2 separate regions of the Homo sapiens genome follow, and region 1 is reported to be linked to region 2. Evidence: microRNA targets listed by miRTarBase, many of them from high-throughput screens and not tested one by one. Region 2 holds a microRNA gene; the other region holds the end of a gene's coding sequence.

Region 1 (7,122 bases), not on the chromosome of region 2:
AGCGTCCTTGGAAAGCAAACATACTTCGGGGCATTTCAGTGGGGGCGCAGTGCGAGGGTGTCCTTTGCGCCTCAGCTCCGGAGAAAAACGAAAGGTGGGTGGGAAACTAGGATAGAGGTGAAAAGTAAGAGGGGACTGAATCAGCGAATGACAAAGGGAGCAGGGCTCCGGACAGGGGTAGGAGGAAGAAGAGGAGTGACTGGGGCTTGTGTCAAGCTTCTTCTGAATGGCTAGACAGCCGCCAGGTGGGAGAGGCGGAGGGTGAAGAGGCGGGTTCCGCACGCGGTTAGCCTGGGGCTGATCTAGTCTTCAGCTTTCACCGGCTGGGAGTCCGGAGCTGCAGCAGAGGCCACACCCAGGGCTTGGTGGTCCCGCGCTTTCCGGAGCTCAGCAGGCGCTTGCTGCTTGAACCGGTCAAAGAAGGAACGAATGAATGACCCTTTTGCCAGGATGGAGACCCGGGGGCCTCAGGGAGCTGCGAATCCCATGGACTCCTCCCGCAGCCTGGGGGACCTCGGGCCTTTTCCGCGGGAGGTAGGGCGCGGGGCTCCGCTAGCTCCGGGCGCCCGGAATCCCGCGACGGCAGGGGCGAGCCGAAGCCAGGGCGGCGGCCACGAGGACAGAACGGCAGATCGGGCCCTCGGACCTCGGGCCGGGGAGGAATTGGACCGTGAGTCCTGGGTCAGAGAGAAAGTGCTCTTTCTCCTGCACCCAGAGAGGTGGTTAGGGACTCGAGGGGACCCTGCACGGGAAGAGGTGGCCGGTGCAGAGGACCTTCCTCATGCGGGTGGAGAGGACCACGGCGAGGAGCCCAACTACCCTTCTGTCTTTCAACGACAAAAGCGAATTTCTGGCAGGCGTGTAGCCCCGCCGCGGGACGCAGCAGACCCACCCAAATACGTGCTTGTGCGGGTGGAGGATTATCAGGTAACACAAGAAGTGTTGCAGACCTCCTGGGCCAAGGGTCGCATGACCACGAGGACTGAGGAGCACTTCGTGACCGCGCTCACTTTTCGCAGCAGTAGAGAGGGACAGCCTGGGGAACGCTGGGGCCCTGCTGAATCCCGGGCTCTCCAGGCACGAACAGGGGCATCCCGCGTCCACGCCGCGGGGAGGAGGGTTTCACCGTCTCCAGGGACTTGGCTCGAGGAAATTAAACTCTAATGAGTAGCTCGAGAAATGTTCCGGGATGGTGGATGAGCGATCATCCTTAAAAGAAAATGCTATTCTGGGAGCTCCAACCTGCAATTAACCTACAGAAGGAACCTTTTGAGAGGCTGGTGCAGCGCTTCGGGGAGGCAGATTAAGAACTGTAAGCAGCATAATACCTCCTTTGTGGCTTGAATTCCTTCGCTGTCTGGGGACCTAAGTCATTCAGAAGAGGTGGAGAAAAGATATTTTCAGATTGGCAGAATGTGGGAGTTTTGAAATGAGAAAACCTGTTGTTAATTTGCATTTTGGAATAACTCTCAATTGATCTCTTTTCTGTTCCCCGCCCCCCTCTTGTTTCTCTTTAGGACCTAGAAACAGAAGTGAAGTTTGAAGTCTGCTCTCTGCAAAGAGGGTGGGAGTGGGTGGAGAAGAGGCTTGTTTTAAAAGCCAAAAACAGAAAGTAAAAAGAAATGGGAAAGTAAAACCAAAGCAGCAAGTGACTCTCTTCTGATGTGCACTTTTCATTTTTCTCCCCCACATTTCAGTGTTAGAAAGAAAACGAGAGGAGCTAGGGAAAGAAGGAGTTGGGGACAGAAGACTAAGATTTCAACGTGAAATTCCATTTACAAAGGCTTTACTGCAAACAATAGCTAATTTAGTCCTGTAAACATGCATTTATCATACATTTTAATTTTAATATTAAAAATACTGCATGTAAATGTTCTGAACTAAAGGTAGATAGCAATATGTAGTTTGCCATAAAATGAATGCATGTCTTATTCTTTTCCATAGTTCTTCATTAATGAGACTTGTAGTCAAGAATAGATTGAAGATACCATTCTCCTTGTGTAGTTCAAAAAAATCTCCTCTGGTAATACTGAAACAACTAATTTTTCTTATTTTGTTTGTTCCTCTTTATTATTAAATACTATGTGAATTAACTCTTTAGTAGTTGGCCTGGTTGAAGCTCTGTGAGGAGCAAAGCAGCCCTCTCCAGGTGAACTGCTTGACTTTACCACCTGAAGGAGTATTTACTGCAAGAATTAACAAAGCAGGTAGGACTCTGGCTTTTGATGAGCAAATAGTTGAAAAGTGCCTCCTTCCCCAGTCTTCCCTTTTGCCTTCATTTTTAGTTTAGAGCTTGAAGTGTTCTCAAAAGATCATCTGATCTACCTCTTGCCTCCTGGCAGGCCAGATAGATAAGATGCCCCTGTTTTACTCATGAGCCAACCTAGGCCTAGAGGTCTTGTAGCATGTCTAAGTCACACAGCTAGTAATTGCATATGCTTACTAAGTGGATGAAGAATGTGATAATCTCCCTCCTAAAGGTTTGGGGCAGCCTTTAGAGGATTTATTTGACCCTTACTTAGGGGTCAAAAGATGCCTGAGGATATCCTAGGTTTTCTTTCTTTTTCTATTTTTTTCTTTTTTTTGAGACAGAGTTTCTCTCTTGTTGCCCAGACTGCAGTGCAACGGCACGATCTTGGCTCACCACAACCTCTACCTCCAGGGTTCAAGCGATGCTCCTACCTCAGCCTCCTCAGTAGCTGGGATTACAGGCATGTGCCATCACCCCGGCTAATTCTGTATTTTTAGTAGAGATGGGGTTTCTCCATGTTGGCCAGGCTGGTCTTGAACTCCCAACCTCAGGTGATCCTCCTGCCTCCGCCTCCCAAAGTGCTGGGATTACAGGTATGAGCCACCATGCCTGGCCAATATCTTAGGTTTTCTAACTCATGTTTATGAGAAGTACTAGAATCACCTTAATGTTCCTGAATTCTGCAAGGCCTCTTGGCTGGAGAATCATCACTAGCAGTTCTTAGGCCTGTGAGACCCTCACTTGGGAGAGGAATTCAGCATCTGAGCTCATCTGTGTTCAAAATTGCTTGACAGGTAGAAAAGATTCATCCCTTAAAATGAATCTCTTTTCCTTAACAACCCTCCCTGACTCCAGTGGGAGATTAACTTACTTGGCATGTAAGTTTCAGACCTGAGCTTATTAATTTGGTTGAATCATCACATGTCCCAGGTGACTAATCATTGAATATAGAGAACAAAAAAAGTCTCTTTCACAATAACCAAAAATGGTAAGTAGCATCACTCAGCTGCCTTCTCTGGAGGCAATTTCTGGCGTTCAGCTGCTTGGGTTCAAAACTGGCTCTACCTCTTTATTAACTTGTGTCCTTGGGCAAGTTGCCTTATCTCTGTGTGCCTCTGTATCCTGATTTGTTAAGTGGGGACAATAAATAGTATCAACTTCATAGAGGGTTTTTTTTTTTTAGGGTTAAGTTAAATGAAAATACTTAGAACCCTGCCTGTCATACAATAAATCCTCAAAGTTAGTTACATTTTTTATTATTAGCACGGTTATTGTTTAGTTCACTTTTCATCCTAACTAGGCTTTAGTCTTTTGTTTAGTAACAAAAAGCAGAAATTGTATAACACAAGAAAGCTAATGAAAGTCAAGCCGGTGGTTTTTAATAAGACTCTTCTCTACTCCTGAAAGAAAGGACTTATTTCTAGCTTTTCCTAACCTTTAATGGATCAGTAAGTATATTTCTTAAATTCTTTAGAAATGACCTTCACATCTTCTGTAGGGACTCATGGTAAAGCTCAAAGGACTAAGGTACACTATCCTTAACAGTCACTGAAAAGAGTTTACATACCTCCTAGTTCTGGGCAGATGGGAGCTTTGAATACTTTCTTTGACCTGTCAGGTTAGTTTGTTTTCCCTCTGGGATTTTAAATCTGATGCCCTGTTGTCTAGAAAAGCAGAATAGACACAATTTGTTTTCATTTTGTCTTTCAGCCAAAAACGTATTTAGTCAAGTTAGCTTAACTCCTTTAAACCAAATATGTTTGAGTTAATTTTGTTTTGTTTTTGAGACAGAGTCTTGCTCTGTCGCCCAGGCTGGAGTGCAGTGGCACGATCTCTGCTCACTCCAAGCTCCGCCTCCCATGTTCACACCATTCTCCTGCCTCAGCCTCCTGAGTAGCTGGGACTACATGCGCCCGCCACCATGCCTGGCTAGTTTTTTTGTATTTTTAGTAGAGACGGGGTTTCACCGTGTTAGCCAGGATGATCTCGATCTCCTTGACCTTGTGATGCGCCCGCCTCGGCCTCCCAAAGTGGTGGGATTACAGGCCTGAGCCACCATGCCCGGCCTGTTTGAGTTAATTTTAAGTGATTTTTTTTTTCCTTTTCTCACTGTTTCAAGCAATGAAAATTTATTTTTAAAGTGCTTACTCAACTTCCCTATTAACTGCCTAGAACATGTTTATAGATTTCATTTAATATAGAGTTCCTTTTCATTGGAAACAAAAAGTAGTAAGTCCAAATACTGTTGAATTTGCTTCACAGGTGTTCCTGATCCAAGCAGAACCCTGTTATTTGAAGAGCCTGAGAAATCTTATCCCGTTTACAAATGTCCTGGGAGTGCATCCAAAGTGAAACTTGGGCATCCTCAATACTAAGAAATCTCTGAGAATGACTGGATCTTGGCTCTTTGATCTTACCTCTACTCCTCTGAAAAACATGATTATCTAAAATTGTGTTAGGTGGATGAACCGCATCAAAGACTTCCAGAAGCCACTCCAGTGACCATAAGATAAATGTCAGAATCGCATAACCCCCAGGATCAGGCAAGTGTTATCCTCTCTTAAAACTCTTTGTTTACAACCATGATCTCCTTTTGGGAATCATTACATTTGACTTACTGCTTATTTTTGTTGGATGTTACCAGTGCTTGGTGATAAAACTTGATGTGGCTCTTTGCTTTGAAAAAGAAAAAAACTTTTTATTAAAAGAAACAGTTGTATACACTGCATAAAAATTGGGAAAATATTATGAAGAAAAAGAAGATATAATAAAGGAAACAAAAATTTACAGATGACCCCAAATCTCTTTTAATATTTGGCAAGTTTCAAGCATGAATTTTTTGTTTTGTTTTGTTTTTGTTTTATAGAGACAGCACCTTGCTATGTTGCCCAGGCTAGTCTTTTTTTTTTTTTGAGACGGAGCCTCGCTCTGTTGCCCAGGCTGGAGTGCAGTGGCGCAATCTTCGCTCACTGCAAGCTCTGCCTCCCGGGTTCATGCCATTCTCCTGCCTCAGCCTCCCGAGCAGCCGGGACTACAGGCGCTCGCCATCACGCCCGGCTAATTTTTTGTATTTTTAGGAGAAATGGGGTTTCACCATGTTAGCCAGGATGGTCTCGATCTCCTGATCTCGTGATCTGTCCACCTCAGCCTCCCAAAGTGCTGTGATTACAGGCGTGAGCCACCGCGCACCTGGCGTGCCCAGGCTAGTATTAAAATCCTGGACTCAAGCAATCCTCCTGCCTTGGCCTCCCAACATGCTGGGCTTATAGGCATCAGCCACCATGCCTGGCCAAGTGTGGTTTTATTTTATTGTATTTTCATGTGAATATACCTACATATATACATACATCTTTCTAAGCATAAACTATATAAAGTAGTATTAATGTAACCTCTGTATATTTTCTGAATATGATCTGTATATAAACAAACATATACTGATGCTACTCAAGATGGGCGTTCTGTGAAACGGCAGCGTGGGCATCTCCAAGAAGGTTTTTAGAAAAGTAGAATCTCAGGCCCCATTCCAGATCTGTTGAATCAGAATTCGCATTTTGTCAAGATCATTGGATGATTCACATTAAAGTTTGAGAAACACTGACATATTCTCATATATTTAGTTCTGTATCCTATTTTGTCACTTACCAAAACTGAAAAGTTTTTTTATTCTGTATTCCCAATTAATTGTTAACAATGCCATGAAGATAATAATTCATAGAGTTTTGAACACAGTTAAAGATTACAGGAAGGTGAAAGATAGAGGATATGAATGGGTAAATTGGCGAAGAGATCTCTATGAAGCTTTATAGTGTCTTTTTTAAAGAGCCTTATTATTTGAAAGTTTGTCCTAATGAACCATTGACTCATCATTGAATTTCAAACTATTTCAGAAATATGGCTATTTTGTTGTCTAGGAATATGAAATAATACATTATAAAAAACTCCTGTAAAGGTGAAAAAGCAGGAAGTCATTAACACATTGCACAATTGCAACTCTGCAGGCTGAGTCAGAACTTGTCAGCCACTTGTGATGAATTGAGAGGGGTGGGGAAAAGGTGGAGCCAGAATTTGAATCAACTGATTCAGATAAGTAAACAAAGGGCTGTGACTCTTGAACACCATGACATCTCTATAACTGCAGTCAGTACTTTGCTCTGTAATTAGGGAGGGCAAATCTGTGAATTTACTTCTCTAGATGAAGATAAAGTCCAGATTACTTTGGAGAGAGTAAGGAGTTATGATTGGTTTTCAGGCATTATGCAGCCAATAGTCACAAACAAAACATTAAGACTTGGTTATCTTCAAAGCAAGGAACTAACCAAATTCAAACTTACATTTCTAACCTTAAAACAGAACAAGAGGCCAAGCACGGTGGCTCACGCCTGTAATCCCAGCACTTTGGGAGGCCAAAGCAGGTGGATCACCTGAGGTCAGGAGTTCAAGACTAGCCTGACCAACATGGAGAAACCCCATCTCTATTAAAAATACAGAATTAGCCGAGGTGATGGTGCATGCCCATAATCCCAGCTACTCAGGAGGCTGAGGCAGGAGAATCACTTGAACCCAGGAGGAGGAGGTTGCAGTGAGCTGAGATCGCGCCATTGCACTCCAGCCTGGGCAACAAGAGCAAAACTCCATCTCAAAATAATAATAATAATTAATAAATAAACAGAACAAGAGTATTTTGAGGAGACTGCAGCCCTCCCCAAAATAGAACAAACAGAGGCTGTGTTTGCAGAGCTTGCTATAATAAGAGAGTCAGCCAACATCATTTGTGCTTGGCAGGAAAGCGAAGGCAGGTAGGGCAATAGGAAAGCTTTGTAGTGGCCAAGATGATCTTACCCATTCCTCAGCTTGACTAAATTTCAGATAAG
Region 2 (7,122 bases):
GCTAACAAGGTACTTTGGTAATGTTTTTCTCAAATTTTCTGGGTTTTTTTTTTTTTTTTACTCTAGAAATGATTACATTTCAAAATTTGCTTTCATTTAATGTATATTTAATTTCAATTTCTTTCTTCATGTTAAACGGTCTTTTTGTTTCAAAGAAATGAATCCCTATGGGTCCCTCACCTATTTTCTCCCTCAGGATGACTTTTAGTCTGGAGATAGAAGGGACATAAGGGTGCCTCTGGCATAAGTACAGGAGTAGAAATATAAGAATTACTTTGTAAAAGGATAACCAAGGAGTTCCTGCACATGCTTGATGTGGCTCTAGCGACTTATTTTCGAGGCAAAGTTTTAACAAATGAAAACGAATAGTACTTATTTTTCAATTATATGGGCTAAATTAAAGATCAAAGGTAAAAGCTCATTTTATAAAGCTCTGCTGAATGAAGGCAGGATTGTAGTTTATGCGCTGGTACACACGCCCACATTTATATACATTATAGCCATATCTATATCCAGGTAAATTAGAAAAATGTTTAATTTTATTTTCATATTACTTTATAAGGAGATATACAAATATTTTAGGGATCATGGAATCTATTCCAGAGGAAACTAACCAACAGTGAGCATCTTCAACTAAAACTACCCCTGGATGTAATAAGTGTAAGTATTAAAATTAAACATTATATGTGGTCATGAAGAGAAAATTGTTTCAGGGTCTGTCCAAACTACACTTCATAGAAATTTCATAATTATTTTTCATTTTAGCATGTGAATGATTGATAAATTGGACTAGGTACTGGGTTAAAAGGACTTTTCCACCATCTAAGAGAAAGGAAGTTCAGAGCCTTAGCTTCAACACCACAATTTCTTAACTGGAAAAGGATCAATCTAAAACGGTGGACTTAAATTTTCAAACTCATTTTTCTTTTAGGCCACAGATCTCAAAATCAAAGAAAGACTGTTTACTATAGGACAAAGTTTCACACTGATCACTTTCCTGTAGTTAGTCAATAGGCTTAATATCCTTCCTGCTTGGCATTCGGGCTTTCGGCCCAGATAATATGTTTATGTTTGTAAAAGACCAAAATATACTATCTACCCCCACCTCTCGCCTACAGACCACCCATGTATTTCACTCTGTGGGAAACAGTTTAGGCATAAAAATCCTAACGAAAGAATTCTCCCCACTTTTTTGGTTGAAGTCTTAAGCTGTTATAAGATATAAAAAGTACAACTTGGTAATGTGAAAAAATTCACTCATCCACAAGCATCCATGCTCGGTAAAGAGACGCCAAAGCTTTCACTTACTCTGTAAGGGATCTGCTCTTTATAAACAATGCACTTTACTCTGCTCTAAGGAGAATAGCCCACCCATCACAATAACGTCAAAATAATAACTAAGAGACCATCACTCAGAAATCCTGGCTTAAAATAACTAGAAGGTCAGGCTTTAACCTGAGACAGGAAATTCCTGAGTTAAGATAGAAACTTTCTTACTTCAAATCCCTTCTTACTTTCATGTTCTGTAAATTAAGTAGAAATAAATATTTACTCATTTTCAAAGGTCTCTTACAAATAATTTTTATCAGTTTTAATAGTTAGAGATAACGAAGTAAATTAGGAAAAATAATTAAATCTTCATTTTGAATTTTTTGACTTAGCGTGACAGCCAGTTTCCTGGAGTTGCTTTGGTTTAATTTCACTACAGAAGACTTAGAAGACAATTCTTTTCTTACATTTTTTTCCTTAAGAAATAAAAGACAAAAAGAAAACAAGGTGTAATAACCACACTAAAAATTACATGGTATGATAATAATACAAATAGCTCTTTTATGTTTTAGCTAGTATTTTAAGTAATAATAAACTAATATTCAACCTATAATTTGGGAGATTAAAAAAAGGTCAATATGGTTTTCAGTCTTTCATCTTTTTAACAAGTTTAGGGGCAGGTTCAACATAACAATGAAGTGTGCATATGTCACATAGTTACTGTAAGTGTGTTTTAAAAATCTATCAGAAACATAAATTGTCCAAAAGCCTTATGAATAGAACAATTGTTTTCAGCAAGATTTTTTTTTTCCCCTGAAAAACTGTTGTGGTTTTTCTGGCTCAAAAAATTTTTATATCTTGCCTTAATAAAACTGTTTTATATTAAAGCATAACATACAAACTCACAAATATTTCTTTTTATTTTTTCAGGTTGCATGCATCATTCCTTTAATTGAGCAGAGTTAACTGGATCAAATTATTTATGGGAGAGAGAGGAAAAGTTATAAAGAATTATAGTAATTTTTAATTTCCACCAATATACTCTTTGTAAGTGAATCACTCTATAATTACTTTCTGTTGCACTGAATGCAGCAACAATAACACAATAGTATTTTAAGGCACTGGTTTTTGGCATACTCTAACCTTGTAATTATTTAAATAACAGCCAAGTTTACTCATGTTTTTGATTCTGTCAAGAAAAAAAAAAAGTTCCTTTACTCGAAAGTGATGGCCGAAACAGAATCGGAAATTTGTTTTCTTGAAATTACATAAATACACAGAAAATGGCACTTATTAGCTTTTGTTAAAACATTACCTTACCTAATCACTGCATAAAAGTCCAGATTTGTAGAAAATTGTAATTTTCTCAGTATCTAAAACTATTTTGCTTTCCATTAAGTTTCTATTTGCTATTTTCTCAGAATTTTACAATTAAAGATAAATCACAAACTGTTTGTTTTTCTTAAAGTTCTTTGAGAAAATGTCTAATTATACAATCCTTGGACAATACTGTGTTTTTTTGGTGCTGTGTTTTTTAAGAAGTCCTACTTACTGGAATTTTGACTATTTGGATATTTTTGTTTTTAAAAGGGGAGGGGAATTTGCTTAATACTTCTAAAGATGTGAATTGATAATTGATATTAAAATAGAATTACTCTCAACTCACCAGAATTAAATTTTATATCTGCATATTTAACACTATTAGCTCATATAAATTATAAGAAAAATTTTCAAAGGATCTGGTTTTAATTTTTTGGATATGAAATGAATTTGCCTTTTCTGCCTTTTCTTAAGTACTATTTTGTAACTATATTGCACTAACTATATCCAAAACACATTCTGAGCATCACTGTGAGTAACAGCCTTCCAGTTTGTACCCTTTTGATTCACAGCATGGCCCTATAGTTAATTAAGAGGTGGATAACTTAAGCTCACAACTGCCTTTAATTTGATTTCACATCCACAGTTATAAACTTTGCATTTAAAAGGAAAATGAGACATTTAAATAGGTTCCTGTTGTTTCACATATAATTGGTAAAAACATATTCCCTTGTAGGATCCTATTATCAGAGCATCAAATACCAAAGTCAGCAACTTGGGTTGCCAAATAAATTAGGCTCATTAATTATTTTGAAAAGGGCTGCTGTTTCCATGTAAATGATAATTTTCTTTTTCATGGACAAGGTTATGGTACTTATCTACTAAAAGAAACATGCATAAACATAGTTTTTATCTTTAACTTCAGTATTAAAATATGCAGTTTTTTGCAAAGAGGAAAAACATCTGGTTCAATTACGCTGAACTCTGACTACATGTGGGCCAGTAATAATATGAATTGGACTTAAGAATAAACCTTGTGTTTAATCTCTTTTTTTCCTTAAAATTTTAATGTGAGTTTTCTGTTACGCAAATTATCCATGTTAGCACATTTGGAACAAATGTATAAATGTACTTTCTGAATAAAGTCAAAAGTCTAACTTGTTTTTAGTTCCATAATGTTTTAATGTTTAATTATATTGTGTATTTTTCTCCCTTTCCCCTTACTCTCCAAAATCACCAAATCTGGAAAACAGGCTGATTGTATCTGTCTATGAGCAAAGGAAACCTGAAGGAACCAAGGGCCTGGCTGGACAGAGTTGTCATGTGTCTGCCTGTCTACACTTGCTGTGCAGAACATCCGCTCACCTGTACAGCAGGCACAGACAGGCAGTCACATGACAACCCAGCCTGAATGACAACCAGCCATTGAAAGAAAGCAGCCCTCACACCATAGCATCTACACCAAGAGCTACAACCAAAATGAGGGGCTCGGGGGCCTGGGGTTTTAATCTGTTGGTTTAATACTTAACTCATGTATTATTTTATTTTGATTCAAGTATTAAAACCCACCAAAAGTAAAGTGAGTGGTGCCTATGAAATATAATAAAACCCATTTCTGAAAATGTTCCTGTGCATTCTATAGTTCTCTTTTCCTAATTGTTGTCAGCAAATCACTACCCTTGACCTTTATTGTACACAGCTTTGCAGCACCCTATATTGATATAAAAACTCAATATAACAAAACAATATAACTTCAGTCTGATGCTTAACAAAGAATAAATTATTCTAAGAATTCTTGTCCATAAACTAAGTATGGTTTTCTATGTCATGATTTTTTTTTTTTTTTTTTTTTTTTGGAAGGGGATAGGGTGGAAAGACAGAGAAAAGAAAAGGGAGAAAAAGAGTATTCCAAAGGATCAAGTGCTTTGAGTTAACTCTGCCAGTCTGGGTTAACTCTGCCAGTCTGGGTCTGGGCAAAACACAGTGAAAAGACTACTATTTCCAACTAGTGTTCAACTATATTAAAATAATAGTTTCTCCTCTTTTGACATATGGAAAGTTGAAATTTTTGATACTTCCACGCGTCATGGTATACATAAATTTATGACTGCGTCATTCTTTAATTAAGAAGGTGCTTATGCTACAGTTCTAGGAGTAGAATTTACAAGGCCAACACATTCACTTGCAACCTATGCTTCCATCACTATAAACTTTCAAGATCTTGAGATGTTCAGGCAATTCATTTATCTTCAGAAGCATAAGGAAAGTGGTTAATGCACTTGAAATGTATATTTTGACACATCTTTTGAGAAAATATCCAAACTTCAGTTTATGCACTGTTAACTGGAGTGAAATGATAAGGGATGGCTTTTGTCTATGAATACTTTAAATACTTAAGGGTAAAAGGTGGGAAGATGGATAAAATTAGAAATGTGTCAACTTTTATTTAGTTCATTAACATGTTTTAGCTTCAGTATTTGAAATTAATTTTCATCTTTCTTAGATTCTGGTCAAGCTTAAAAAATGTAACACAAGGCTACTCAAAACTTTTTTCACATTTAACAATTAAACACTTTATGTATGTATTCTTAACTAAAGCAAACTATTTTTCATTCAGCTATTTTATTTTTAAAATGAAAGTCTCAGTCTTAAAGCTAAGATCCCAGTGAGTTTCAAATTTTCTGACAATGATATTTTAACCAAACCTGACATTATAGTTTCTTTAATTAAAAAACTGAATGATGGGGCAAAACTACAAAGCACAAATATGATTAAAGTTAAATTTCTCTCATTTAAACAATCTTGTCTTATGGCAATATGTCATCTGCTAAAATTCATCTCTGCTTCTGCAAGATACATTGCACGATGCAGATTTTTGCCTTAAATAAAAGTCCCATTACTAGCAAATAAAGTCCTAAACAATACTTACAAAATGTAGAATATAAACAGGAAGACAATATAAAAATTACTCACAGAATATCGACATCGTTCTACCCAATCTTAAATGCCTTGTACCACCTGTTGCAAATGCTGCCTATGAGAGTTCACGTATGGAATTATTCTACTGGACCCTGCAAGGCTCAGGAGAGTGCTTGACAGCTCCCAGAATGAGACAATGACCTAGCCAGAACATTAAGGAGACTACACCCGTCCTTCAGACTCCAAAGGGAAAGCTAGGACGGCAGCAGAGTCATCCTAAGGTGAGGCACTCCAGGATAACATTTTCAATATTTTTCCTTAAAACATAAAGTTAACACCTTTTTTGTTAAACATTTTTTACTCAATTTTCAAAAAAAATGCTTGAAAGAATGTTTTGTATGTATTTTAAAGTCATTAAATGAGGCACATTTAAAAATTTTTCTCTTCTGGGAAAGGGTAATATAAAGGATAATATTGCTCTTCCAGGATAAACTTTTGAGTGGGACAAATAATGCATATAGGGGAGTGGGTTTGAATCTAAACTCATTTTTAATAAATTTGGAATAGGATTGGCCATTATGGTTTATTGAATAATACTCTTTTTTTCAAAATTATAAATCTTTAGATAATACCAGAACATGGAAATATTTGTATGAATAATCCTATATTAAAAAAGAATAACATCAGATAGTTTATGTATGTAAAAAAATATACAACTGTGATCATGCAGAATTTTAAGTAATATAAGTGGATTAGAGTTCAATATTTACTGGGACTTTTGTGAAAATATCTAAGTTTTGGCTAACTAAATAACTTAACGAAGGAGTGTGAACAGTGTTCACAGGGTCGACGCTGACCTTTTCCACCACAGGGAGTGTGCAGATCTGGTAGGAAATATGCACAATCTTAAAAGTATAAGTGAAACTAGAAAGAGAGCTGAATATTTCTATAACTTCTTGATCTCACAACTTTGATCATCCAGGGATATAACTGTCATTTTGTTTCCTATTTCTGAAGTTACATTTGTCATTTGTTATTGTTACAAAATGAAAACAATGCTAAGTAAATATCCCTATAAGGGAATTATATAATCTCCTTATCAAGTTATCCAAACACTTCAACCCACAAAAATGAGGCCTGTAATTTCTTAAGAGTCCAAAGAATGTCCTTATTTCAATGCAGATGTTGGGTTTTCCTCAATAGTATAAGGTTAGCAGATTTCCACTGGAAACGCCTATGTTGCATTATTCTGCTTGCCTAGGAGTAGCTCATTATGATTTAAATCTTTACACACTGGGCTATAGAAATAGAATAAATATTGACTAAGTGCTTTTATTATACATAAATTAACAGTCCTCTTTCTTCAGAGATTTGAATTATCTCTTAAAATTTACATATTTATGTATTTTTAAAACAAATTTCTCATTGGTTTTAAGAAAAATAAGGCTCTTTTCTCCTTGAATCAGGGTCTCCCATTCTCCTAAAATTCACATTTTAGACATAAGTTAAAGAAAAGCCATCATTTTTTTCAAGTCTGATTTTAAAGTATTAATGTAAAATTATCTAGATCAAAAATCCATTTCAAAAAACTTTTGAAATGACAGTTTCTGTTTT

Evidence for each region. Region 2 holds the annotated microRNA hsa-miR-3120-5p (CCUGUCUGUGCCUGCUGUACA, at 3,956-3,976, opposite strand). A microRNA usually pairs through its seed, bases 2 to 8, with sites in the 3' UTR of a target mRNA and lowers its output. Matches are read on the target gene's strand: a 7mer-m8 pairs with bases 2 to 8, a 7mer-A1 pairs with bases 2 to 7 and ends in A, and an 8mer does both.
Region 1: the mRNA of C6orf141 is a reported target of hsa-miR-3120-5p. The part of its 3' UTR that is shown has no 7-base or 8-base seed match.

What each region holds. Positions count from the first base shown.
Region 1 is chr6:49,550,364-49,557,485 of GRCh38, forward strand. It overlaps C6orf141 (chromosome 6 open reading frame 141), which reads left to right and starts at 305. Exons shown (of 1, transcript NM_001145652.2): 1 at 305-1,732. The coding sequence starts at 430. The coding sequence ends at 1,164. RefSeq lists a silencer at 290-349 and enhancers at 1,020-1,089, 1,106-1,625.
Region 2 is chr1:172,135,674-172,142,795 of GRCh38, reverse strand. MIR3120 (microRNA 3120) reads right to left here and starts at 3,988; the gene lies at 3,908-3,988. All of the region lies in intron 14 of DNM3 (dynamin 3), which reads right to left. It overlaps DNM3OS (DNM3 opposite strand/antisense RNA), which reads left to right. Exons shown (of 4, transcript NR_103486.1): 3 at 583-660; 4 at 2,200-5,917. MIR214 (microRNA 214) reads left to right here and starts at 3,889; the gene lies at 3,889-3,998.